7 linked regions of the Homo sapiens genome follow. The protein of the gene in region 1 purifies or fractionates together with the protein of each later gene. This does not show direct contact. Each region holds a gene or a part of one and is shown in the gene's direction. Other genes may lie near its edges.

The links.
Region 2: the proteins of ZNF777 (region 1) and SRBD1 purify together in Homo sapiens (affinity purification with mass spectrometry; one large-scale study listed by BioGRID and IntAct). This does not show direct contact.
Region 3: the proteins of ZNF777 (region 1) and SHCBP1 purify together in Homo sapiens (affinity purification with mass spectrometry; one large-scale study listed by BioGRID and IntAct). This does not show direct contact.
Region 4: the proteins of ZNF777 (region 1) and GAS6 purify together in Homo sapiens (affinity purification with mass spectrometry; one large-scale study listed by BioGRID and IntAct). This does not show direct contact.
Region 5: the proteins of ZNF777 (region 1) and SEC24A purify together in Homo sapiens (affinity purification with mass spectrometry; one large-scale study listed by BioGRID and IntAct). This does not show direct contact.
Region 6: the proteins of ZNF777 (region 1) and KLHL21 purify together in Homo sapiens (affinity purification with mass spectrometry; one large-scale study listed by BioGRID and IntAct). This does not show direct contact.
Region 7: the proteins of ZNF777 (region 1) and IPP purify together in Homo sapiens (affinity purification with mass spectrometry; one large-scale study listed by BioGRID and IntAct). This does not show direct contact.

The regions. Positions count from the first base shown.
Region 1 is NC_000007.14:149,458,263-149,462,546, reverse strand, and holds the start of ZNF777 (zinc finger protein 777), read left to right. Parts: upstream 1-1,484; 5' UTR 1,485-1,732; intron 1,733-1,958; exon of another isoform or gene 1,959-2,400; coding exon of another isoform or gene 2,401-2,517; intron 2,518-4,284. UniProt on the Homo sapiens protein: May be involved in transcriptional repression. Inhibits cell proliferation through CDKN1A/p21 induction by down-regulation of NIBAN1/FAM129A at low cell density.
Region 2 is NC_000002.12:45,388,180-45,391,267, reverse strand, and holds the end of SRBD1 (S1 RNA-binding domain-containing protein 1), read left to right. Parts: intron 1-1,668; coding exon 1,669-1,958; 3' UTR 1,959-2,588; downstream 2,589-3,088.
Region 3 is NC_000016.10:46,583,380-46,586,879, reverse strand, and holds part of SHCBP1 (SHC SH2 domain-binding protein 1), read left to right. Parts: intron 1-74; coding exon of another isoform or gene 75-122; exon of another isoform or gene 123-151; intron 152-2,790; coding exon 2,791-2,877; exon of another isoform or gene 2,878-2,878; intron 2,879-3,222; coding exon 3,223-3,364; intron 3,365-3,500. UniProt on the Homo sapiens protein: May play a role in signaling pathways governing cellular proliferation, cell growth and differentiation. May be a component of a novel signaling pathway downstream of Shc. Acts as a positive regulator of FGF signaling in neural progenitor cells.
Region 4 is NC_000013.11:113,823,063-113,826,076, reverse strand, and holds part of GAS6 (growth arrest-specific protein 6 precursor), read left to right. Parts: intron 1-2,526; coding exon 2,527-2,702; intron 2,703-3,014. UniProt on the Homo sapiens protein: Ligand for tyrosine-protein kinase receptors AXL, TYRO3 and MER whose signaling is implicated in cell growth and survival, cell adhesion and cell migration.
Region 5 is NC_000005.10:134,655,285-134,658,784, forward strand, and holds part of SEC24A (protein transport protein Sec24A), read left to right. Parts: intron 1-3,500. UniProt on the Homo sapiens protein: Component of the coat protein complex II (COPII) which promotes the formation of transport vesicles from the endoplasmic reticulum (ER).
Region 6 is NC_000001.11:6,590,224-6,592,869, reverse strand, and holds the end of KLHL21 (kelch-like protein 21), read left to right. Parts: 3' UTR 1-2,146; downstream 2,147-2,646. UniProt on the Homo sapiens protein: Substrate-specific adapter of a BCR (BTB-CUL3-RBX1) E3 ubiquitin-protein ligase complex required for efficient chromosome alignment and cytokinesis.
Region 7 is NC_000001.11:45,747,854-45,751,991, reverse strand, and holds the start of IPP (actin-binding protein IPP), read left to right. Parts: upstream 1-1,338; 5' UTR 1,339-1,395; exon of another isoform or gene 1,396-1,486; intron 1,487-4,138. UniProt on the Homo sapiens protein: May play a role in organizing the actin cytoskeleton.

The DNA.
Region 1 (4,284 bases):
ATTAATCAGGGAAATACAAATACAAATTAAAATAATGAGCTACCATTTCACAGTCATCATGTCGGCAAACGTTCTGAGTCCATTATCAGTAAGTATGAGCCAGGATGGGGAAAGAGAAAATCACACGATAGTGGGTGTGTAAGTAGGCACCATCCCTTCAGTGAGCAGTTCGGGAAGCCGGGGAAAGATGAAGGTGCTCTTGCCATCCAGAGTCCCATGTCTAGGCGTCTCTAGAGACGCACTTTAGCAGTGCACAATGAGACATGCATGCAGATGTCGCTGGCAGCAGGTTTGTTCTCATTCCTCTAGGGGGAATGGAACGTAAACTGTAGTTTATGTATTCAATGAAATACTATATTGTGGGTAAAATGAATGAACCAGATATTCTTGTTTAAACATGTCTGTATCTCAAAAACAAAATGACCCATGGAAAAAAGCAAGTTGCAACAGGATAGGGACTGGATAATATCATTCACATAAAATGTAAAAATACCAAAACCAGTAGTGTGCATTGTTTACGAATGCACACATGTTAGTTAATGCATAAAGACCTGGGTGAGAACTCTAGCCTCCGGGAAGGGAGGGGACAGGATGCATAGCTCTGGCCTTACCTCTATCTGTAACTTTCCTTTTTTTTGTTTTTTGAGACGGAGTCTTGATCTGTCCCCTAGGCTGGAGTGCAGTGGGGCGATCTCGGCTCACTGCAACCTCTGCCTCCCGGGTTCAAGAGATTCTCCTGCCTCAGCCTCCCAAGTAGCTGGGACTACAGGGCCGCGCCACCACGTCCAGCTAATTTTGGTATTTTTAGTAGAGACAGGGTTTCATCACGTTAGCCAGGTTGGTCTCGATCTCTTGACCTCGTGATCTGCCCACCTCAGCCTCCCAAAGTGCTGGGATTACAGGCATGAGCCACCACGTCTGGCCATAACTTTCCATTATCTGAGCTGCCAGCATACTGAGTCCTGTTGCCTTCCAAGACCAGCTCCACTCCTGGGGTTCCATTAGGTAAACACAATGTCCTCTGCTCCCCCCCGCCGTCTTCCCTCACTTAAGTTAGTTCCAGTTGGGCTTCATCGCTAGTAACCAGGACGCCTGCCTATAGTTTCTTCTTTTTTTTTCCTTTTCAATTCATCCCCAGTTCTCGCCACCTCGTAGGTATTCAATTAATACATGTTTAAGTGGACCTGTCCAGGAAGGGGAGTTCTCAACTCTAAGCTCCTGCATTTCTTTTGGGACTTCTCATGGTTACAAAGAGCATTCATTCATACTGTGACTGAGGGTAAACAAGTCGCTGCCCACTCGGCCTCAGTTTCCTCCTAAATGACCCGTCTGGCCACTTCCAGCCCCAGCAGGGTCTGATTCTAGGAATTCGGTCCTTTCATGTCGAAAACAACACTCGGGCATTTCACAAAAGCACCCAACCCCCTGGCTCCCCTTGGAAGCACAGCCCGCGTCCCTGGAACCCGGGCTGCACTGAGCTGGTCACATGAACTCCGGGCTTTCTCTGGTGTGACGGGTTTCTTAGATCCCTTTGTGAGCGCAGGTTTTGAAAGGGAACGACCCCGGGTTCTGGGTGTGAGAGGCGCAGGGGATCGGCGGGAGGAAGGCTGTCGGAGCCAATCAAGCCGCCTCCAGACCCCAGCACGTCGCCTGGGCTGCGCGCTCCGACTGCGCCTCCGCCCGCGCGCCTCCCGGCCTCGCCCGAGGGTGCCTGGGCAGGCGAGGACCCCAGGTGAGAGGCCGGAGGGTCCTGGAGGGTGGGAGGCCCCGGCGGTTCGGCCCGGGCTCCACGACGGGCTGGCCCGGGCTCAGGGCGTGTCCGTCGCCGCCGGGCGGCTCGCTCGACACTGTTCGCTCCTACCGGCTGTAGATGGAGCTGTCTGGGTTCCGGCAGCCTCCGACGAGCCTCGGAGTGTTTCTCTTTAAACGGCCTGAGAGGGACATGCCTCCCAGGATGCAGTTTGTAGCAACATGGCAGCTGCTGTGCAGCTCCCCTGCTAAAGAGGCGCCGGGACGGCAGCGCAGCTCGCAGCCGGGGCCGGGGCCGGAGCTGGGGTCCCAGCCGCGGCCGCAGAGGGGCGGCGCGCGGGCCGGGGGCCGCCGTTGAGGGCCGGGGCCCAGCTCGCCGCCGGGACGCAGCCGGCCGGGCCGCCCGCACAGCCGCGCGCCCAGCTCCGACGCCGCCGCTCGGGCTCCGCGACCCCGCGCCCGCTCGCCCCGCGCGCCCCGAGCAGGCCGGGGCCCGACGGCCGCGCGCGAGCCCCGGCGGGGAAGACAGGGCTGGGCCGGCGCCGCCTGCGGAGAGCGCCGGGCGGCCGGGCCTGCGTGGGGCCGCGCGCAGTAGCGGCGGCGGCAGTAGCGGCGGCGACTCCGGGGGCCCGGGCCGGACAGCGCAGGGCCATGGCCGAGGCGGCCCCGGCTCCTGTGAGGGCGGCCCGCGCGCGCACGGACGCGCGGCCTCGGGGCCCCGGGGACGGCCTGCGTGTCCCGGGCTCGGCGGCCCGGCCTGGGATCTCGGTAAGGGGCAGAAACGCTACGACGTTGGCGCGGGGGGTGGGGGCGCCCTGGAGGGGGCCCGCGCGTCTTGACCCGGGCGGTGGGGGAGGGCTACGGGCCTCGCCGCCGTCCGTGCGAGGGAGGCTGCTCTCACGCCCGGCCCGGCACACACGCGGCCCCGAGGTGGGGCGCCCGGAGGCGCGCTCGCTCCCTGCGGGGCCCGCGCTGCGTCCGTCGGGGTAGCCGCCGGCACGTTTTCCGCAGAGCTCGGCCCCGCGGAGCCTTCCCCGGCCCGGGCGCGGCGCTGACGCGGCTCTCCCATTTCGCAGAACGGAGACACTGAGGCACAGACACCTGGCGGCGACCCGCCCTGCCGGCCCCAAGGTCACGTAGCAAGGCATCCGTGGCACGGTGCGGCAGCCCCAGAAAGGCCTGCCCAGAGGGCTGCGGGCCTGGACGGGGAGGGGGTGGCTCTGGCGGCGGCCGCCCCTGGGTGAGGGGCTGGGCCGCCCTGGCAGCGGACGCGGCCCGTCGGGGGCGGCGGGGGAGGCCGGGCAGCGCCCAGCTGGGCATCTCCGCGGTGGGAGCAGGTGACCCTCTGAGCTCCAGCCTCTGCCTCCGGCCTCTGCGTCTGGAAGGTCGTAGGCTAAACTTTGAGTGCCCTGACAGATGGTGTCTGGGGAGTAAGCTTCTCAGGGGTTGGGGGCTGATGTTCCTCTTCAGGAAGACACTCTTAAAAAATCATCCCTCAGATCCTCCCGCAGACCTGCTCTTTGAGACGCCCTGGCCGTGCTAGTGAGAGGATTACTGCATGGGAGTCAGTGCCTTTGAGCCTCAGTTTCCTATTGTGTACACAGGAAGGAGGCAGGATATATAGCTTTCTAAAAAGCATCCCAATTCTTTAATCAAAAAAAAACTCATGAGAAAATAAAATCAAACGAAGATGTTTACATGCCTTACTCTGGGCTCAGGCCTTCGGGGCCCTTGAATGGTATATAATGCTGGGTGAACCATACTGGGTCATTCAAAAAAATGCCATGACTTTCTTAATAAGTCAGATACTGTGGTTATGGATGCTTCTGCTAATGTGGCATGAATCCTGGAGAATCCATCCACTCCTGATCCGTCGGGGAAGGAGGGACCGTTAAATCCTACAAATATGGTTCAGAAGAATTCTCCCTCCAACCCCCTACCAGGAATTTGAGAATTTGAGCTTATTCGTTTTAGGTATATTTACAGCTCCCTCCCTCTCTTTGGTCATTTCTTTCTGCTTAGGGTAAGATAAGCGGCAGGTTTACCGGGATGGATTAAATTATAGCAAAGGGCTTTTATTTGGGAGGCGAGGGAGGGAACACCCTCCTGTGGCCCCTCTACAGTCCTCCAAATCCGGAAATGGAGAGAGACAGTCTAATAATAGCAAAGAAATAGTATTTTCCTTTGAGCTCTGATTTGTCTAGCTGGTAAAGATGCCTTGGTCTGCTGGCTCTGTTTACTATACTGGAGGGTTTTGTTTTGTTTTGTTTTGTTTTGTTTTGTTTTGTTTTGTTTCATTGTTTCAGTTAAACCTCTGCATTACTCAGAGAGACTAACTTGCTCCCCAGGGATTTTTTCCTCTTCTTCTTTCTAGTGCTAGGCAGATACCCTAATCTCCCTCTAAGGCAAGGGCTGTAATGTGCCTATTGTGTTGCGTTAGGCAGTCACTTTCCCTGAGAGCCAGGCGCCTAGCCTCCAGGGCCCCCAGCGCTTCCTTCACAGGGAATGAAGAGTTCAGAGGTGGCTTAGCTGTTG
Region 2 (3,088 bases), on another chromosome or scaffold:
AATGCTTGGCTATGAAAGTGTTAAAGTTTGCATGGTACACAGAGGATTTTCTGATTTCTCAGTGTCCCCAACTGTCTTCAGGAATATGTTAAGTAGTTCCTGACTCTGATTTTCCTTGCAAGATTAAACTAAACAGCTGATCAGGAACCCTTAGGGAATCTGCAGCAGCTGGACCTCCCCAAGAAAAGAGAGAGAGAGAAAGAATTTCCAAGCATAAAAACAATGCCTATGGGGTCTCGGAGACCCGTCCTACCTCTGCCCCTGATCAGTGACTTAGTTCCACTTTGCTTTGACACAGCCTTAGCCTGGTGTAATATTACATTACAGTAGGTTTCTTGCTTTTGGAATTCACTGCTTTAGCATCAGGTAAAATTCCACAGAATCAATTCCAATTTTAGCGTACTCATTTTTATGTGTACAGTGAGATTTGGAGTTTAAAGAAGGTTTTTATTTTGTTTTATAAGAAAAAGCTTAATTTTTAAAACGTCTTGGTATCAGTATGGTTGGACTGGGGGAAGGGAAGAAAGGGGTGACCAGTTGTTAATACAAATGTAAAGGATAGCTTTAACAAGTCATCAGGATAAAGCCAACAGCTGTGGAGGAAAAGGAAATGGAATGGGTGGAGGGGAAAATGAGGCCTTAGTAAAAGGAGATCCAAGCATAGAATGTGTTCTTTGTTATTAGAGTCAACACTCAGTAATCCTAGGAAAGGGGGCCTTCAGGAGGAGCATGGATAAATGGAGTCCACAGATAATCCACAGCCCCGTTTAAACTGTTAGTTCTAACTCTAACTGTCTCCCTCATAAAAACCTTTGTTTTTAACTAGAACCATAATGATTCCTTGGCATGCTTTATGCCTACCTTTTGGACAATAATGAACAAAGAAATGTATGCTGGGGTGAGCAAGAAAAAAGGGCTATAAAGAACTTGGAAACAGAAATCTGTATCTTCATCATTGTTTCTCTAGCACCCAGCAGAGTGCCTGGCCAGGAGATAATAGAGTTAACAAATGTTTGATGAATTTAATTGAAAGAAGAGAAAGAATATTAGATACTACCTGGTCTGGGATTCTGAGCCATAGATAATCAAGAATCCATAAATGTTGATTGGATAAATATATATGAAATAGGTGGGAATTGATTTTCTGAGTTCCAAATTTGTGGGAAGAAGTGAGGAAGAAAGAACATTTGAATTTCATCCACATTTGGCCAAAAGTTGATGTACTTTCTACCATCTTTAAACAATTTAATAATCCAGGCACTGGGGGAAAAACCAAAAAAAAAGCTTCCAGTCTCTTGTTTCCAAAGGTCTTACTTTCTCAGTGTTTGTGGTTTAGCTTTGTATATTTGTTAAGCAAATATATATTCTCATCACCTCTTCACAAAGAGGAAAATAAGACTGTCTTCTCGATCCTTATGTATAATGCTAGTGTGTAGCATTGTAGAAGGAAGTAAATTTTCTTGAATTGTTTCTACTGCATGAATGCTGTCTCCAACTGATATGCATGTTCTCTGAAGGCAAGCGTTGGTCTGCAGCTCCTTTTATAATCCCCCCTTAATCTTTAATATTGGTCTGGGCACATAGTATGTAGTAAGTACTTATTCACAAAGTTATGTTGTATCTAGGAAGTACAATGCCTTATTTACACTTACTTTTTTTCTCTTACAGATTTTGATAAACCTGATTTCAAGAGAAGCATAGTATGCCTGGAAGATCTGCAGATTGGGACAGTTCTTACAGGCAAAGTTGAGAATGCCACTCTCTTTGGAATTTTTGTGGATATAGGAGTGGGGAAATCTGGGCTGATTCCCATACGAAATGTAACAGAAGCAAAACTTTCAAAAACAAAGAAGAGAAGAAGCCTTGGACTGGGCCCCGGAGAAAGAGTGGAAGTCCAAGTACTCAACATTGACATCCCCCGATCTAGGATTACTCTGGACCTCATTCGGGTGTTATGAGTATCCCACGAAGGCCAGACGCTGATTTTATTTTCTCATTTCCACAGATTGACAAGGATAAGTCAGTTGTTTGTAAACTCTAGGTAGCAGATGAGAAATAATTCACTTAATATCAGAAATATTTTCCAAACACTTTCCTTTATTTTTTCTTCTGAATAAATAGAAAACCAACAGTTTGATTTCCTTTTCCCTTAAAGGAAACAACTAATACACATTCTTATATGGCTTTATGTAGTAATAGTTTTCTGACTAAAATTTTGTTTTTTATTTTTTGTAATTTATCTTTAACTCCTTTTGCATTTTGTATAACAGATTGCTTAACTTCTACTTGCCAACATCTGCCTTGCTGGACTTGTATGGGATTGTCTTCTTGATTTGAATTGTACCGTCTTTGTTGACACAGTAGGGCTGGGCAGTGTTTAATCCTTCCATTTTATAGATTTTTTTTTAATCAGGCCTTTTGGACTTCATTCATAATTTTGCAATAATCTCTTTTCCCTTGTCATGCAAGCCAAAAATATACCAGTAAAACAGATTCTGACGTGTTTGTAGTTATCAAATGAATGGCTCGAAACACTTCTCAAAAGGATATACGTATTGACCCCAACAATAAATGTTTGTGGCTAGTGACTTGTTTTTTGCTATGTTGATTCAGTGAATGACCTAGAAGTCAGTCTTGATGAAAAAAGATATGGTTTATGCAACCTTTGGAGAAGAGGGAAGCCTTTGAAAATTTGAAGAATGGTTTTGTTTGATTTAGCATAGAAGAGTGTGTCCTTTCTTAAATCAGAATTAAACTTCAAATGGGGATAGAAATGGCCGTTTTAAAGATCAAATATAGATCAGGTGTGAAGGGACAAGAAAAACAAGTATATAAAGGAAGTGACTCTTATTCCATTTTTATTTAGTGGAGATGGTAAGGATTAGCATGACCATTCAGGATCAAAATAAAGCCCACAGTGGACTGGTATCCTGTTCATTCTGACTACTGCTGCTGCTGTTGATTTGCCTGATGAAGATATTTGTATGACTGAATGAGTGTCTGGTTTTCTCCATGCGTGATAAGTAGGGGATAGTTACTAAAGACGACCAGTCTTGTTCATTTGCCTAGGAAACACCCATTGTCCTGG
Region 3 (3,500 bases), on another chromosome or scaffold:
TGATTTCCTCCTCATTCCTGAAGAATATTTTCACTGGTTATAGGATTCTGGGTTGACAATTTTTTTTCTTTTAGCCCTTGAACAATACTGTGTGTCTTTCATCTGACGTCCATGGTTTCTGATGCTGTCAATCACATTTTCTCTCCTATAGGTAAGGCATAAAATTTTAATTGATGCTTTCAAGATTTTTGTTTTAAGCTTACACTAGTTTAATTATGATGTATGTTGGCGTGGATTTCTTTGAGTTTATCCTGTTTGGTGTCTGCTCAGCTTCTTGAACCTGTAGGCTTATTATCCAAATCCTGCCAAATTTGGGAGCTTTTAGTCACTATTTCTTGAAGTATGTTTTTAGCCTCACCCTCTTTCTTTCCAGGACTCTGATGACATGAATATTGGATCTTTTGTTATATTCCAGCAGACCCCTGGAGCTCTGTTTACTTTTCTTTTTCACTGTTTTCTCTGCTATTGGGTAAATTTTACTGTTCTGTCTTCCAGTTCACTGATTCTTTCCTCTGTTGTTTTCATTCTGCTGTTGAGCACATCCATTGAGCTTTCTATTTCAGTTATTGTATTTTTCAATTCTAAAATTTCCATTTGGTTCTTTATATCATCTACTTCTTTGCTGAGACTTCATTTTTCATTGGTTTTATGTGTGTTCATAATTGCTTATTGAAGCATTTTTATCATGGCTGCTTTAAAATCACTGTCAGTTAATTCTATCATCTCTGACATCTTGGTTTTGGCATCTGTTAATTGTCTTATTCATTTTGACATTTTCCTGATTCTTGGTATGACAAGGGATTTTCAAATGAAAGTTGGATATTTTTATATTATGTTGTGAGAATCTGGATCTTCTGTTTTAACTTGGCTTCTCTGATACTACTACAAGAAGGGACAGGGTTGGCGGTAGATGGGTATCATCTTGTTACTGGTGGAGGTAGAAGTCATGGTTCCCACTTGGCGTTCATTGATACCCAAGTTGGGTGGGGGAGCTCCTTCTTACTGCTATGTAGGGGTGGGAGGTCTAGCTTCCTACATGGTCTCCACTGGCACTGTGATATATGGGAGTGGTCTTGTTACCAGTGGGCAATGGTGAAAGTCTGGAATCTCCACTAGGCCTGCTCTGACACTGCCCCAGTAGGGAGGGAGTGGTTGTCTTGGCACTGCCAGGTGGGGGTACAAGTCCAGGCTCCTCATATAGTTTTCACTGACACTGCTGCAGGGAGGGCCTTGCAACTGTGGTTGGTGGGGATGAAAGTCCTGGCTCTGTGGTGTTTACCTGGAATAGAGCTATTATTATCTAAAAGTTTTCCTCTTTCTAGGTTGCCTAGTCCTTTCGTTAGAGCAGCTTTTTTTTGGGTGTATGTCTGTTGGTGTACTGGATTGCTGGCTTCTTCAGCTCCAAGTCTAGGGATTATGAAGCAAAAAGAAAGGAACTTACCACTGTGTTGGTGTTGTTTCTTGGGTCCTGAGGTCCCTAGCTGGTCTGCCTTCTTCTCTCCATTTTTCAGTCTTATGCTTGTTTTATATATAATGCCCATGGTTTTTGGTCGTACCTAGCAGGAGGAATAGGGACATCTACTCCATCATCCCAGAAGTGGCAGGCTCCTCAGTTACTTTTTAATTGCCAAATTATCTGTTCCTTTTCATAACATATTTTGAATATGACTTTCACTTGCTACATGACTGCTGGTTTAAATTGTTCTCCTTTACAAATTTTATGTGATTCCTGACAGTTTGATATTTAATTTTAACCATCTTGCTATAGATATTTTTAAACATAGTCGCCCCAAAATCTTTTTTTGCACATAACCCCAAACTGAAAATCTCTTAGAAGACACAATTAGCACATTTTTAAAATCCTCTCTACAAAAGAGTTAGATTGGTGTATACATATGGTTCAGGCATATGTACAGGGTTAAGTAATAATAAATGTTTTCTCATGGAATACTACTGCTACTAGAAAATTAACTGAACATACATGCATTAGATGTGTCATCAATGGTTACAGCAACTCTTCTTCATCGATGCTGTTGTGCATTAAATTATTCCCAAATGGTTGCTGAAATAACTATAGAGGTTTGAGTGAATCATTTTTGTTTTCCAGAGTGCCTTGCATAGCATTAGGAAAGAAATTCTTACTATTTTTATGTTTTTTGGTGCCATAAGGTATGAGAGAATAGTGTCATGTTTGATCTTTCTGGTTACTCTGTTTGAATGACACTTGAACTGGCTGCTGATGTTAACGTGTGTGGTAGGGAAAGCCATTGTTGGACTCATAGAAATGATTTTTAAGTTGGGTTGGGGTATTTTAAAACTGACACGTTTTGGAAAATGTGGGGTCTTGTTTCTATCCTCAAATTACAATATTTTACTAAATTCAAATACTTATCTCCAACTAATTGAGTATCTGAGAGAATGGTCATTTTGAATAAGTGTGTCTTTCAACAAAATTGTTAAATGACTTTTTTTTTTTCTTGGCAGAATCAGAAAACATTTATCTAGAATGAAAGAGAGTAGAGCAAGAATCAAGTGTTGGCACTCTTAGCGTGTGTGTGTGTGTGTGTGTGTGTGTGTGTGGTTTTGAAAATGATAAATTGTCAACAACTTGCTAGAAATGGAACAAATGGAAATGTTGATTAAAAATGGCTGGTAAAACTTATCTGTAAAGTACTTTATCTTTGTGCTGTACATTTGTACTGTGTTAAAGGCTAAGAAGTAATTGTAATAAACTCTTATAGTCTTGCCTTTTAAAAACTGATTGTCATTATCTCAAACTGTGACTCACAGGGTGCTGGTATAGAAATCTACCCTGGGAGTCAGTGCACCCTGAGTGACAATGGGATCCATCACTGCAAGGAAGGGATCCTCATTAAGGTGAGCATCAGCCAAAACACCCACTTTTCAATGGATAGAATGGTTTTACCTACAAATTATGCTTTATTAAATTGTTGGGTTCTATTTTCTGGTTTTGAAAAGCATAAACAGTGTACACATTTTGATAATATCAGTGATTGGAATCTCTTGTGAGAATGCTGTTACCTATAGATCTGCAGAAATGACAGAGGAAAGCTGTGTCACTAAGGGTGCAGACTGTGCTACAACATGGGACTAAACATAGCTTTTTCCTTTTATTTTTAGAATAGTGTGAATAAAGAAGATTTTTAAGGCAGGAAATGTTGAATATGACAGTTCCTAAAACATTTGTTTTCAATGTCACAGGACTTCTTAGATGAACATTATGACATTCCCAAGATATCCATGGTGAATAATATAATACATAATAATGAAGGTTATGGTGTTGTCTTGGTGAAACCTACAATCTTCTCTGACCTGCAAGAAAATGCTGAAGATGGAACTGAAGGTATATTTAGTAATTTTTAATATAAAAACCAGACATAATTTATTTCAGCATTAAATGCTGATTAAGGATCTGAGTCTTCCTCTCTTCCTTAAAAAAGGTTGTTGGGATATGCTTGGGCATGGAGAGAGAGAAGCTT
Region 4 (3,014 bases), on another chromosome or scaffold:
TCGGCCCCACCCTGCCTCACATTCCCACCCCACGTGGGCCCCACTGGGGCACCACAGCCCTGCCCTATTCCTGGACACCGAGCCGTTTATGGTGAAGCCCCCACACGCACAGAGGGCAGGCAGCGCCCCCTCCGTCAGATCTCAGGGCTGCCGGCCCTCAAGCACCCAGCAGGAACCCCAGGTTCAAGGGGATCCACGCGGAGCAAAGGGGAGGGTCCTGCCCCGTCCTGAGCCAGATCCAGTGTCACCGTCTCCCCCCGGGTGTCAAAAGCGTGACCGTGTCAGGAAAGGCATCTGAGAAAAGCGCCATCTGCCACTGGCTGGACTGACTGTGCACACGCGTTCTCCCTCAGTCTTGATTTTTGGACTTCCAAATCTAGAGCATCATAATGTTTGACACGAAATCATGTCATATGAAATGCTTAAATCCTTTTTCCACTTAATATCATACACATTTCTCAGGGGTAACCTTATGCAGGCATCACAGGGGCCATTTCCAGTGACTGCCGGCCGCGTCTGCCGGCCCTTTTTGGTCTATCCGGACAGAAGCAGTTACAGCTCCATGCATTTCCAGTGAATCTCAAACTATACCAGTAACGTCTCTTACAAGACAGAGGAGACTTGCTGGGAATGGTAGTACTGGCCTGGCTCACTCTGCAGCGACTCTGCTGGGCTCAGGCTTGCAGATCTCCGGGTCTGTGCAGCCTCCATGCAAGGGGCCACGTGGAGCCGGGAAACCTTCCCGGGGAGAGCAGAGGCCGGTGCCCTTGTGAAGCCCCGATGGCCAACATGTGCCTAGCCTCCTGTCAGGAGCTTCCTTTTTTTTTTTTTTTTTTTTTTTTGAGACGGAGTTTCGCCTTTGTTGCCCACACTGGAGTACAATGGCACGATCTTGGCTCCACCTCCCAGGTTCATACCACAACCTCCGCCTCCCAGGTTCAAGCGATTCTCCTGCCTCAGCCTCCCGAGTAGATGGGATTACAGGCATGCACCACCACACCCAGCTAATTTTGCATTTTTAGTAGAGATGGGGTTTCTCCATGTTGGTCAGGTTGGTCTCGAACTCCCGACCTTAGGTGATCCACCCACCTCAGCCTCCCAAATTGCTAGGATTACAGGCGTGAGCCACCACGCCCGACTGGGAGCTTCCATTTTAAAGAACACCATCATCTCTCCCTTCACAGGTTATGGGAAGACCGGCAAACAGGAGACTTTTTGTTGTTACTTTTTGATTCTGTTGCAATATTTTTGTTACTTTTTCTGATTTTGTGTGTTTCGGTGCCATAAATGGTTGTTGAGAACTGATGTGGCGGGTACCAGCTAGGGACAGGCAGGACAGGCGATGTGGGTTTCAGGCGTACACAGCCCCGTGGGAAAGAGACAGGGAAACCAGCACAATTCACTCTGACCCCAACCTTGGCCTGCAGTGCGAGGCGCCCAGTCACAAATGTGTACACACAGTGATTTGGGGTCCTTTTTCCTAAAACAGCTTCTTTATCAGGACTTTGGAATTCTGGGTGAGATAGAAACACTGAAAACAGGGCGGAAGTTTTTTCTTCTGGCTTCTTAGTCCACGGAGGGCTCAGCGTGGAGAGGATATGCCGTGGCATTCTCCCTGGGAGACCACACATGTTCCCGACAGCTCAGACCCCAGACCGCATGTGCTCCTGACAGCTCAGACCCCAGACCGCGCGTGCTCCTGACAGCTCAGACCCCAGACCGCAGGTGCTCCCGACAGCTCAGACCCCAGACCGCGGGTGCTCCTGACAGCTCAGACCCCAGACCGCGCGTGCTCCCGACAGCTCAGACCCCAGACCGCGGGTGCTCCTGACAGCTCAGACCCCAGACCGCGCGTGCTCCCGACAGCTCAGACCCCAGACCGCGGGTGCTCCTGACAGCTCAGACCCCAGACCACGCGTGCTCCCGACAGCTCAGACCCCAGACCACGGTGCTCCTGACAGCTCAGAACTCAGACCGCGGGTGCTCCTGACAGCTCAGACCCCAGACCGCGCGTGCTCCTGACAGCTCAGACCCCAGACCACCGTGCTCATGACAGCTCCTGTCCGCATGCTATCTTAAACTCTCAGCCCCCACTGGGCCCTGTGCTGCTACCTGAAAGCTGCAGGTGAGATGCGAGGCACGAGGCCACGCACGCTCTGAGGAAGGAGCTGTCAGGCGCTCCTGAAACAAGAGGACATCGGAGGGAGGCAGGGACAGGCCTGCGTCCCATGGTGCACAGCCTGTGGCCCCTCAGACGGGCCTGTGTGGCCTGGTGGTCACCTACAGGGCATTTGGAAGTGGGGTACTGGTGTGGCCAGGGAGAAACAGCCTGGGGGTCCCCGGTGCCTCTGGGCTCCGGGCCAAGATCTGAACCAGTCTGTTGAGTTTTCCATCACGTCCCAGATCCGGGGCTGTCTGCACAGCTTCCCACCCCGGCTGGGACTGCATCTCTCGAGGCCCTGCTCCGACCTCACTGTGGCCTCTCCACCGTGCATACCACCCTATAATGCACCGCTTTCATTGCAGTGCGGACCCCTCTGGACGTCGGGACTGAATCAACCTGGGAAGTAGAAGTCGTGGCTCACATCCGCCCAGCCGCAGACACAGGCGTGCTGTTTGCGCTCTGGGCCCCCGACCTCCGTGCCGTGCCTCTCTCTGTGGCACTGGTAGACTATCACTCCACGAAGAAACTCAAGAAGCAGGTAGGGCCTCCGCCACCCAGGGCGTCCTGACCGGCTCGACCCACGGGTACGTGGGCTGCACTCCCTGGCAGGGGACGAAGGGGGCCCGCGGTGGGATCCCCAGGGACCCCCAAAGCCTCTGACCAGAGGTCTGATGAGCCAAGCCCGGCGTGGGCCACGCTTCGGGCTGCGGGGGTTGTTTGGACACCAGGTCACCGCCACACAGCTGAGGGGGCCGGCGCCTGCGAGCCACACTCGGCTCACAGTGTGGGAGCTTTTCCCCTGTTCGGTTGGGCAGATGGTGGCTCACAGCAATCTGAATTAGTCTCTGGT
Region 5 (3,500 bases), on another chromosome or scaffold:
TCATCTGCATTCATTCTTGCCTCTAACTTTCTAATTTAGCTTCTTTACCCACACATCCCAAAATTGTCCTTAATAAGGCCACAAGGCTGGGCGTGGTGGCTCATGCCTGTAATCCCAGCACTTTGGGAGGTCAAGGCGGGTGGATCACAAGGTCCGGAGTTCAAGACCAGCCTGGCCAACATGGTGAAACCTTGTCTCTACTAAAAATACAAAAATTAGCCGGGTGTGGTGGCGTGCGCCTGTAATCCCAGCTACTCAGGAGGCCTCAGCCTCCTGAGTGATTCTCAGCAGGAGAATCACTTGAACCCGAGAGGTGGAGGTTGCAGTGAGCCGAGATCATGACATTGCACTGCAGCCTGGGCGACAGAGCAAGAATTCATCTCAAAATAAATAAATAAATAAATAAGGCCACAAATGGCTTCCTGGTTATTAAATAGAAAAATATTTTTCAGTTCTCATTTTCCGAGCTGCATTTGATACCTTTGGCTGTTATTTTGTTTTTACAACAATTGCTTTCTTTGGTTTCTAGGATATCACCAGAAGGGTAGTTATGGTTTTCTTTCTTTTTTTTGGTTGCTATTTCTCAACAGCAGTATTCTCAATATTTCTTCCATTTCTGATTGTTTTTTTCTCTCTCCTCCTTAAATATTGGTGTTCTTCAAGGTGACCTATTTTTCTTACTCTTATATACTCCCTGGGTGTCTTTAATTCCCATGGTTTTAAATCTTATGCATAGATCAGTGACTCCCATAATTATATCTTAAGGTGAAATCTGTCACTTTGGCTGCAGCTAAATATCTTTTTTTTTTTTTTTTTAAGACAGAGTCTTGCTCTGTTGCCCAGGCTGGAGTGAGGTGGCACGATCTTGGCTCACTGCAACCTTTGCCTCCTGGGTTCAAGCGATTCTCCTTTCTCAGCCTCCGGAGTAGCTGGGACCACCGGCATGTGCCACCACACCCGGCAAATTTTTTGTATTTTTAGAAGAGATGGGGTTTCACCGTCTTAGGATGGTGTTGCTCTCCTGACCTCATGATCTGCCCGCCTTGACCTCCCAAAGTGCTGGGATTACAGGCCTGAGCCACCGCGCCCAGCGCAGATAAATATCTTTATACTGGACATCTCCACTTAGATTTCTTGGTGGCACCTGAAAATTAGTGTGTTTAAAATAACTCTTCGATCTCTCTTCCCTTTGCCATTCCCCACCTTTGTTTTTTTGAGACAGAGTCTTGCTCTGTCAACCAGGCTGGAGTGCAGTGGCACGATATCCGCTCATTGCAACCTCCGCCTCCCAGGTTCAAGCAATTCTCCTGCCTCAGCCTCTGAGTAGCTGGGACTATAGGCGTGTGCCACCATGCCCGGCTAATTTTTGTATTTTAGTAGAGACGGGGTTTCACCGTGTTGGTCAGGCTGGTCTCGAACTTCTGACTTCAGGTGATCCACCCACCTCGGCCTCCCAAAGTGTTGGGATTACAGGCATGAGCCACTGCATCCGACTTTTTTTTTTTTTTTTTTTTTAAAGACAGCTCTCATTCTGTCGCCCTGGCCGGAATGCAATGATGCAATGATAGCTCACTGCAGCCTTGAACTCCTGGGCTCAAGTAATCCTTGATCCTTGATCAAGTGGGTGGAGTGGCTCATGCTTGTAATCTTAGTACTTTGGGAGGTCGAGTCAAGAAGATCCCTTGAGCCCAGGAGTTCGAGACCAGCCTGGACAACTTAGGGAGACCCCATCTCTACAAAAAAATTTAAAAATTAGCCAGGCATAATGGTGCACGCCTGTAGGCCCAGCTACTCAAGAGGGGAGGTGGGAGGATCGCTTGAGCTTGGGAGGTCGAGGCTGCGGTGAGCTGTGACACTTCAGCCTGGGTGGCAGAGCGAGACCTCATTTCTGAAAAACGCACACACACACACACACACACACACACACACAACCAAAACTTATATTTTGTAGAGATAGGGACTTGCTATTGCCCAGGCTGGTCTCAAACTCCTGGCCTCAAGTGATCCTCCCACCTTGACTTTCTAAAGTGCTGGGATTGCAGGCATGAGCCACCGTGCCTGGCCTACATTTCTATTCTTTTCTCTTTCTGTTCAAATGAATAAACACGGCCATCCACCAGGTTGCTCAGGTCAGAAACCTAGGAGTCATCCTAGATTTTTTCCTCTCTTCATCACCCATATTCAATTCCACATAAAATCCCATGAATGCTGTTTCCTCAAATCAGTTTTTAAAAATTTGAGTAATGTATAGATACTAAATATTTCTCTGCTGTCCCAATGTTAAATTATTTATTTATTTATTTTACTTCTGACACAGGTTCTCACTCTGTTGCCCAGGCTAGAGTGCAGGGGCATGATCACAGCCCACTGCAGGCTTGATCTCTTGGGTTCAAGTGATCCTCCCGCCTCAGCCTCCCAAGTAGCTGGGAATATAGGCACGTGCCACCACAACTGGCTAATTATTTATTTTTTTGTAGAGACGAGGTCTCACTATATTACCCAGGTTATTCTTGAACTCCTGAGGTCAAGCCGTGCTCCCACCTTGGCTTTTCAAAGTGCTCGGATTACAAGATCAAGCCAACATGCCTGGCAAAAATTATTTTTATTAAATGTGTATATGCAAACACAAAACTAGATGTAAACTTCATAGGGTTATAGCTATTGTACTATTGTAAAACCAAACATTAAAAATATCAACATATGGCTGGGCATGGTGGCTCACGCCTGTAATCCCAGCACTTTGGGAGGCTGAGGTGGCCAGATCACTTGAGGTCAGAAGTTCAAGAACAGCCTGGCCAACATGGTGAAATCCCGTCTCTACTAAAAATACAAAATTAGCCAGCGTGGTGGTGCACACCTGTAATCCTAGCTACTCGAGAGGCTGAATGAGGCAGGAGAATCGCCTGAACCCAGGAGGCGGAGGTTGCAGTGAGCCGAGATCGCACCACTGCACTTTAGCTTGGGCAACAGAGCGAGACTCTGTCTCAAAAAAAAATCAAAAGCAATATAATTCAATTTTAAAACATTAAACAATATGCTACATTTTGTTTGAAACCACAGTTGATTTGATTGTTTTAATTTTGAATATGTTGGAACATTACTTGGGTGACTATCATGCTCACTTTTTCCTTTTTGTTTTTGAGACACGTTCTCACTCTGTAGCCCAGGGTGGAATGCCTAATTATAGCTCACTGAAGTCAAACTCCTGGGCTCAAGCAGTCCTCTTGCCTCAGCCTCCTGAGAAGCTAGATCTACAGGCATGTGCCACAACTCCTGGCTAATTTTTTAATTTTTAATTTTTTTGTGTGGAAATGGAGTCTCGCTGTGTTGCCCAGGCTGGTCTCCTACTCCTGAGCTCAAGTAGTTCTGCTTTGGCCTCCCAGTGTGATGGGATTACAGGCATGAGCCACCATGCCCAACCTCTACACGATTTTAATAGGGGAAGAATGGGGTGGGGGAGAGGACATTTACTGGAAAACAGACGACTTATAGGAAGGATA
Region 6 (2,646 bases), on another chromosome or scaffold:
AGCTCCTGGCCCCTGCCAGGGGCTTACATCAAAACACCTCAGAGGGCTGCCCTCCAGAGGCTGCACCCAGAACAGTGGGACATGAGCAGGGGTGTGGGCTTGGAGGGTGAAGAGGATGTGGTCCTATCAGATGCTGGGCCTCCTCAGCCATAGCCCCCTGCTCCTACCCCCTGACTGGCTCTTGCGTCCTCACCTCTCACCCTCTCCTTCCCGGGAGGCCCTGGGAGGTGATCATTGACACCCAGCCAAGCAGACAGCTGCGGGTGCCCAAGCCCTTGCTGGGCCTGCGCGTGAGGAGTCCCACTGCTTCTAAAGGAAGTCCTGGGCAGGAGGTGGCTTTGGTGGTTGGTTCCAAAGTTGAAAATGCTTGCAGTTTGACCTTAGAAGAAGTGGGAAGAAGAAGGAGCTCTACAGGGTCAGCTTTGTTTGATTTGTCCAGTCTAAGAAGTCCCATTGCCAAAGCTTTCTGCAGGAGGGTGAATGCCGCAGCTTGGCAGCCCCTGGGTTTCTCTTGGAAATGGTCAGTTTCCCCTCAAAGTACCCAAAGTAGCCTTGGCTTGAGTTTTTGTCCTTGCCTCCTTTTTAGAGAAGAGGGCATTTAGACTGCATTTTCCTGGTTAAAGAAGGTTAAAGCAAATGTTTATTGCCTTTTCTAGTGAACTAACTCGTAGAGATGTTCTCAGCAGGAAGACAGTCTTAGCACTGTCACTTAGCAGATTGCACTTAAGTCCCTTGTGCTGGCCAGATGGCGTGGCTGGTTGCCTTAATATGTCCCAGGACCCCTGACAGGGCTGCCTGGCCTCTCCCTCGTGCTCCTCAAGAGCCCAGTCCATACACTGTGGATGTCATTGCTGTCGGGTTAGGAAGTCTTGTCCTAGAACGCCCTGGCTGGTATGACCACAGTTCATGGCGGCTCTTCTCGCTTGGGTCATGGTCATCTTCCAGCACCTGCTGTGCTGGGAAGGCCGAGGATGGGGGCCCAGCACTGTCCAGGCCTGCTGGGGCCTGGCTGGGAGTCCTGTGGGCAGCATGGAACATGCAGCTGGGCTTCCTGTGACCAGGCACCCTCTGGCACTGTTGCTTGCCCTGTGCCCTGGACCTTTTCCTGCCCTTCTCCTTCCTCTGCTCCCTTGGGGCTACCCCTTGGCCCCTCCTGGTCTGTGCAAACTCCCTCAGGGAGCCCCCCTGCCCTGTAGCTCTCGCTTAACTTCCTAGGGGCTGCTGAGCCCACCCAGAGGTTGTTGGAGTTCAGCGGGGCAGCTTGTCTCCCTTGTCAGCAGGGGCGTAAGGGCTGGGTTTGGCCATACAAGGTTGGCTACGCCCTCAATCCCTGACCGTTCCAGGCACTGAGCTGGGCACCCACGGAAGGACATGCTGTCCAGACTGTGATGACTGCCAGCACAGGGCATCTCGGGCTTGGCTGGTCTGCGAGGCCTTGCCCCTGTGGAACTCTGGGTTCCTGTTTTCTCAGTCTTTTTTGCGGCTTTGCTGTGGTTGGCAGCTGCCGTACTCCAGGCTTGTGTCGGCCACTCAGATGAGGGCTGTGGTGCGAGCCAGTGCAGGAGAGCTGCGCTTGGGATTGTGCCCTCTCCTGTGTCTGTCCTCCGGACCTACCCAGGTCTCCACCATCAGGACCCTGTCTTTGGGTTTAGAAGACCAAGTATGGGGAAAACCAGGCACCAGCCTCTGCAGCAATGGGTCCCTCTAGCCTGTGGACACCAGCTGGGGGATCCAGGGTCAGGCCCCCTCCTCTCCCCAGTTTCCCTCTGCTGTGGGTTCTGGGCTGTCATGTCTCCACCACTTAAGGATGTCTTTACACTGACTTCAGGATAGATGCTGGGATGCCTGGGCATGGCCACATGTTACATGTACAGAACTTTGTCTACAGCACAAATTAAGTTATATAAACACAGTGACTGGTATTTAATGCTGATCTACTATAAGGTATTCTATATTTATATGACTTCAGAGACGCGTATGTAATAAAGGACGCCCTCCCTCCAGTGTCCACATCCAGTTCACCCCAGAGGGTCGGGCAGGTTGACATATTTATTTTTGTCTATTCTGTAGGCTTCCATGTCCAGAATCCTGCTTAAGGTTTTAGGGTACCTTCAGTACTTTTTGCAATAAAAGTATTTCCTATCCATTTGGAGTCATTGCCTTTGTCCTCCTGCTACTGTCTTCTGGGACTCTTGGGCTGAGGACAGATGTCAGGGGAACAGGCAGCATGGAGCCCAGGGTTCACACTGAGGGTCTTAAACAGCCTTCCAGGCCCTTTCTCATCTCAGATTGTAGCAAGTGATGAAGCGTTGGAAAAGACATGCCCCAGAGGCTGGGTGTGGTGGCTCACACCTGCAATCCCAGTGCTTTGGGAGGCTGAAGAGGGAGGATCACTTGAGCCCAGGGGTTCAAGACCACCCTGAGCAATACGGGAAGACCTTGTCTCCATTTAAAGAGAGAGGCCTGAGAAGTAAATGCTGTGGAACAGATGATGCCCAGGAAACCTGCCTGCTCCAAAGCTGGTCTTTGCCTGTTGGTCCTCTGCCCGGGCCCGGCTCCCACAGCCCTTCTTGAGATTGCGGTACATACAGGTGGTGATGAGACTCCCATCTGCGATGAGATGGCCCTTGGACCTGGGGAGGTGGA
Region 7 (4,138 bases), on another chromosome or scaffold:
TTTGCTGACAATAGGTCCCTGTTAGCAGTTTTTGGTAATGAAGTAGAAAAGAAGAAATAAAAATTTAGTGCACTGCGGGTCGTAAGTGTAAACATAGTTTTGTGAAGATTTTGTTTCAGGCCAGGCACAGTGGCTCACACCTCCCAGCACTTTGGGAGGCCGAGGCGGGCGGATCACTCGAGCCCAGGAGTTGGAGACCAGCCTGGTCAACATGGCGAAATCTTGTCTCTACTAAAAATACAAAAAATTAGCCTGGCGGTGGTGGCACAGGCCTGTAGTCCCAGCTACTCAGGAGGCTGAGGTGGGAGGACTACCAGAGCCCAGGAAGTCGAGGCTGCAGTGAGCCGAGATGGCACCACTGCACTCCAGCCTGGGCGACAAAGCCAGGCCCTGTCTCATAAAAAGAGAAAGAAATACACTTTGGGAGGCCGAGTCGGGCGGATCACCTGAGGTGGGGAGTTTGAGACCAGCCTGACCAACATGGAGAAACTCAGTCTGTACTAAAAATACAAAATTAGCCGGGCATGGTGGCGCATGCCTGCAATCCCAGCTACTTGAGAGGCTGAGGCAGGAGAATCGCTTGAACCCAGGAGGCGGAGGTTGCGGTGAGCCGAGATCCGGCCATTGCATTCATTCTAGCCTGGGCAACAAGAGCGAAATTCCGTCTCAAAAAATAAAAAATAAAAATAAAAATAAAGAAATGAGATTTTATGTTAGATATATACTTCTATATATATACTCACAAGTATGTGGTATTGAGTTTGATGTAAAATATTTTTGTTCACCGTAGGCTGGGATCAAAACAGTTTGAAAGCCACTAATGTGACACATGAGGGTCAACAGTGAAAAAAACTGGACTTTTGAGTTCTTCCTTCCCCAAAATAAGTATCCCTTCAGTGCCAGGCTCAGTCATGCACTCAGAAAACGATTCGAGAGAACAGTAGAGAAGGACCGTGCCAGGTGTTCGGCTCGTCTCTGCTTAACTGAGATCCGCGGCCTTCTTGGGACACCACAAGAATCAGAGTGCAAGCGGAATGGAAAGGGCGAGCCAGCCGGCCCCAGCAGGCAGAAGCAGAGGCTTGCAGCTAAGCTGTTGATCCTTGGGGAAGCAAGCCCAAGCCCTGGGCCCCATCAGTGGGCACTGAGAGGCGCCAGCGGCCCAGTCTCCCGCGAGCGGAAGAACCTCGCGCACGCGCAGTGAAAACCCAGGGCCCGCGAAGCGTCCGAAGTCCCTTCCCACCGCCCGGCTTCGCCTCCAGTTCTCGGGGAACTGTACGGCCCAGTCACTCCCGCCTCGTCACCCCCGCCAGGTTTCCCCCGCCCTCTCCGGCCGGGGCTGGTCGCGACTGCGCGCGCAGGGCCTGAGCGGGCGCCGGAGGGAAGGGGAAGCGGCGGGTAAGGAGGGCCTGCGTTCGGGCGCGTCTGTGACGGGGTTGGGAACTTCCTCTTCTACTCCCTCCGGCTTTCCGGACCCCTGAGGACTGGAGTGAGAGAAGCCTCTAGAACTGTGTATTTCCTTGTCTTTCCTTCTGCCGCCGCAGGCCTTCCTCCGACAGTCTAAGTGTCGCCCTCCCCAGACCTTCTCGTCCGGACCGCTCCTGCCTCCCCCGCCCCAACTGGGGAATCCTGAGGCTGTGTCCCCAGTCCCTCTGTTGTCGCCTCGTTTGTCTGAGATCCCTTCCCTGACCTTTAGGTAGCGCAGGAACGATTATTAGCTTTTAGTGTAGCAGCAGTTTAGGGCTAGCTCTCTAGGCCGGGCCCCCAACTCAAGCACAAAGAACCACGGGTGTTTTGACACTTGTTCCGGGGATTCTTTCTGACACCCCTTTGCTGAAGCAGTTTCCACATGTTCCCAGCAGTGAATTCAAAGCCAGCAAACATAGGTCCGCTTTAGTTCCTCTGGGCATTTCTACCGTTTCCTAATAATCTGCTTTTTTTTTTGAGACAGTCTCGCCCCTTCTCCTAGGCTGGAATGCAGTGGTGCGATCACAACTCACTGCAGCCTCGACTTCTCAGGCTCTAGCGATCCTCTCACCTCAGCCTCCCAAGTAGCCGGAAGTACAGGCTTGCCCCATCACAGCCAGCTAATGTTAAAACAATTTTTTTTGCGGCGGGGGGCTCGCTGTATTGCCCAGGCTGGTCTTGAACTCTAGGACTCAAGCGATCCTCCCTGGCCGGGCGCGGTGGCTCACGCCTGTAATCCCAGCACTTTGGGAGGCCGAGGCGGGCGGATCACGAGGTCAGGAGATCGAGACCATCCTGGCTAACACGGTGAAACCCCGTCTCTACTAAAAATGCAAAAAATTAGCCGGGCGTGGTGGCGGGCGCCTGTAGTCCCAGCTGCTCGGGAGGCTGAGGCAGGAGAATGGCGTGAACCCGGGAGGCGGAGCTTGCAGTGAGCCGAGATCGTGCCACTGCACTCCAGCCTGGGCGACAGAGCGAGACTCCGTCTCAAAAAAAAAAAAACAAAAAACAAAAACAAAACAAAAAAAAAAAACAAAAAATCAAGCGATCCTCCCGACAGGACATCCCAAAGTGCTGGGGTTATAGGTGTGAGCCACCTTGCCCAGTCAACAATCTGCTTTTCAAGTTTGGGGCACGTGAGGCATGCAACGTCACAGAATTGTGCTCTTTTCCTTTGGAAATATGGTCACTCCACATGCCACCTTTTGGGATGACGTTCCTACTCCACTGACAGTGGGATGGTATCAGCAGTTACTGAGAAGCATGGTAACAGACTAGTATTTCTGTTGTCTGCCACCCGAATGGATATTCAGTCAACTCTTTCTTGTAGCAGGAGGCAGCATTTTAGCTCAGTGGCTGTGCTTGATGCCTTGAAGTAGGGGACAGAGGAGGTACCTTGTAATTAAACCACTAGGGTTCAAAATGTGCTGACAGAAATGTAAAACAGAAAAGGCCTGACAGTCATGTCATGTTGATAATAGTTCCAGGTCACATTTCTGTGTAGGGCCAAATACATGGTTTCTCCGCCCCCACCCCCTTTTTTTCCTTTTTTTTTTTTGAGACGGAGTCTCTCTGTTGCCCAGGCTGGAATGCAGTGGCTCCATCTCCACTCACTGCAACCTCTGCCTCCCAGGTTCAAGCGATTCTCCTGCCTCAGCCGCCCACGTCACTGGGATTACAGGCGCCCACCACCATGACTGGGTAATTTTTTGTATTTTTTAGTAGAGATGGGGTCACCATGTTGGCCAGGCTGGTCCTGAACGCCTGACCTCTGGTGATCCACCCGCCTCAGCCTTCCAAAGTGCTGGGATTAAAGGCGTGAGTCACCGCACCTGCTTTTTGTTGTTGTTGTTGTTGAGACACGGTCTTGCTCTGTTGTCCAGGCTGGAGTGCAGTGGCACCATCTCAGCTCACTGCAGCCTGGACTTCCCTGGCTCAGGTGGTCCTCCCACCTCAGCCTCCCCTGAGTAGCTGGGACTACAGGCCTGTGCTATCATGCCTGGCTAATTTTTTTGTATTTTTAGTAGAGACAGGGTTTAGCCATGTTGCCCAGACTGGTCTCAAACTCCTGGACTCAAGCGATCTGCCTGCCTCAGCCTCCTAAAAATCTGGGCTTACAGGTATGAGCCACTGTGCCCAGCCCCTTTCACCCTCTTTAAAAAATTTATTTTTCACTTCAATTTGGGTGACAGAGTGAGACCCTGTCCCCCAAAATAGATATTTTTTAAATTGGCACATAATAATTGTTTTATATTTACATTTATGAGGTACAGTGTGATATTTTGATACATGTATATAATGTATAATTATCAAATCAGGGTAATTACCATATTCATCACCTCAAACACTTCTTGCTATTATATGCTAGTTATATGTAATATGTTGATATTCTGTAGATGGTGATATGAAGTTTTAGCAGCTACCTTCGAATCTCTCAATCAAATTTCTCAATAAGTTAATTCCTAGAAAGTGATGATAATCAGCCTTGTTATTTTGACTTTGATAAGTTTAAATGCTATAAACGTAACCATTTTTTTTCTAACATCAGCCCACACTATAAGTCTTATTACCCATTGTCATTGATACCTAAATTACAAAATCTTAGTCATCTTAAATTTCCCTGTGCTATTCCATATGTCTTATATTACAGGATCTCATGGTTTTTTTTTTTTTT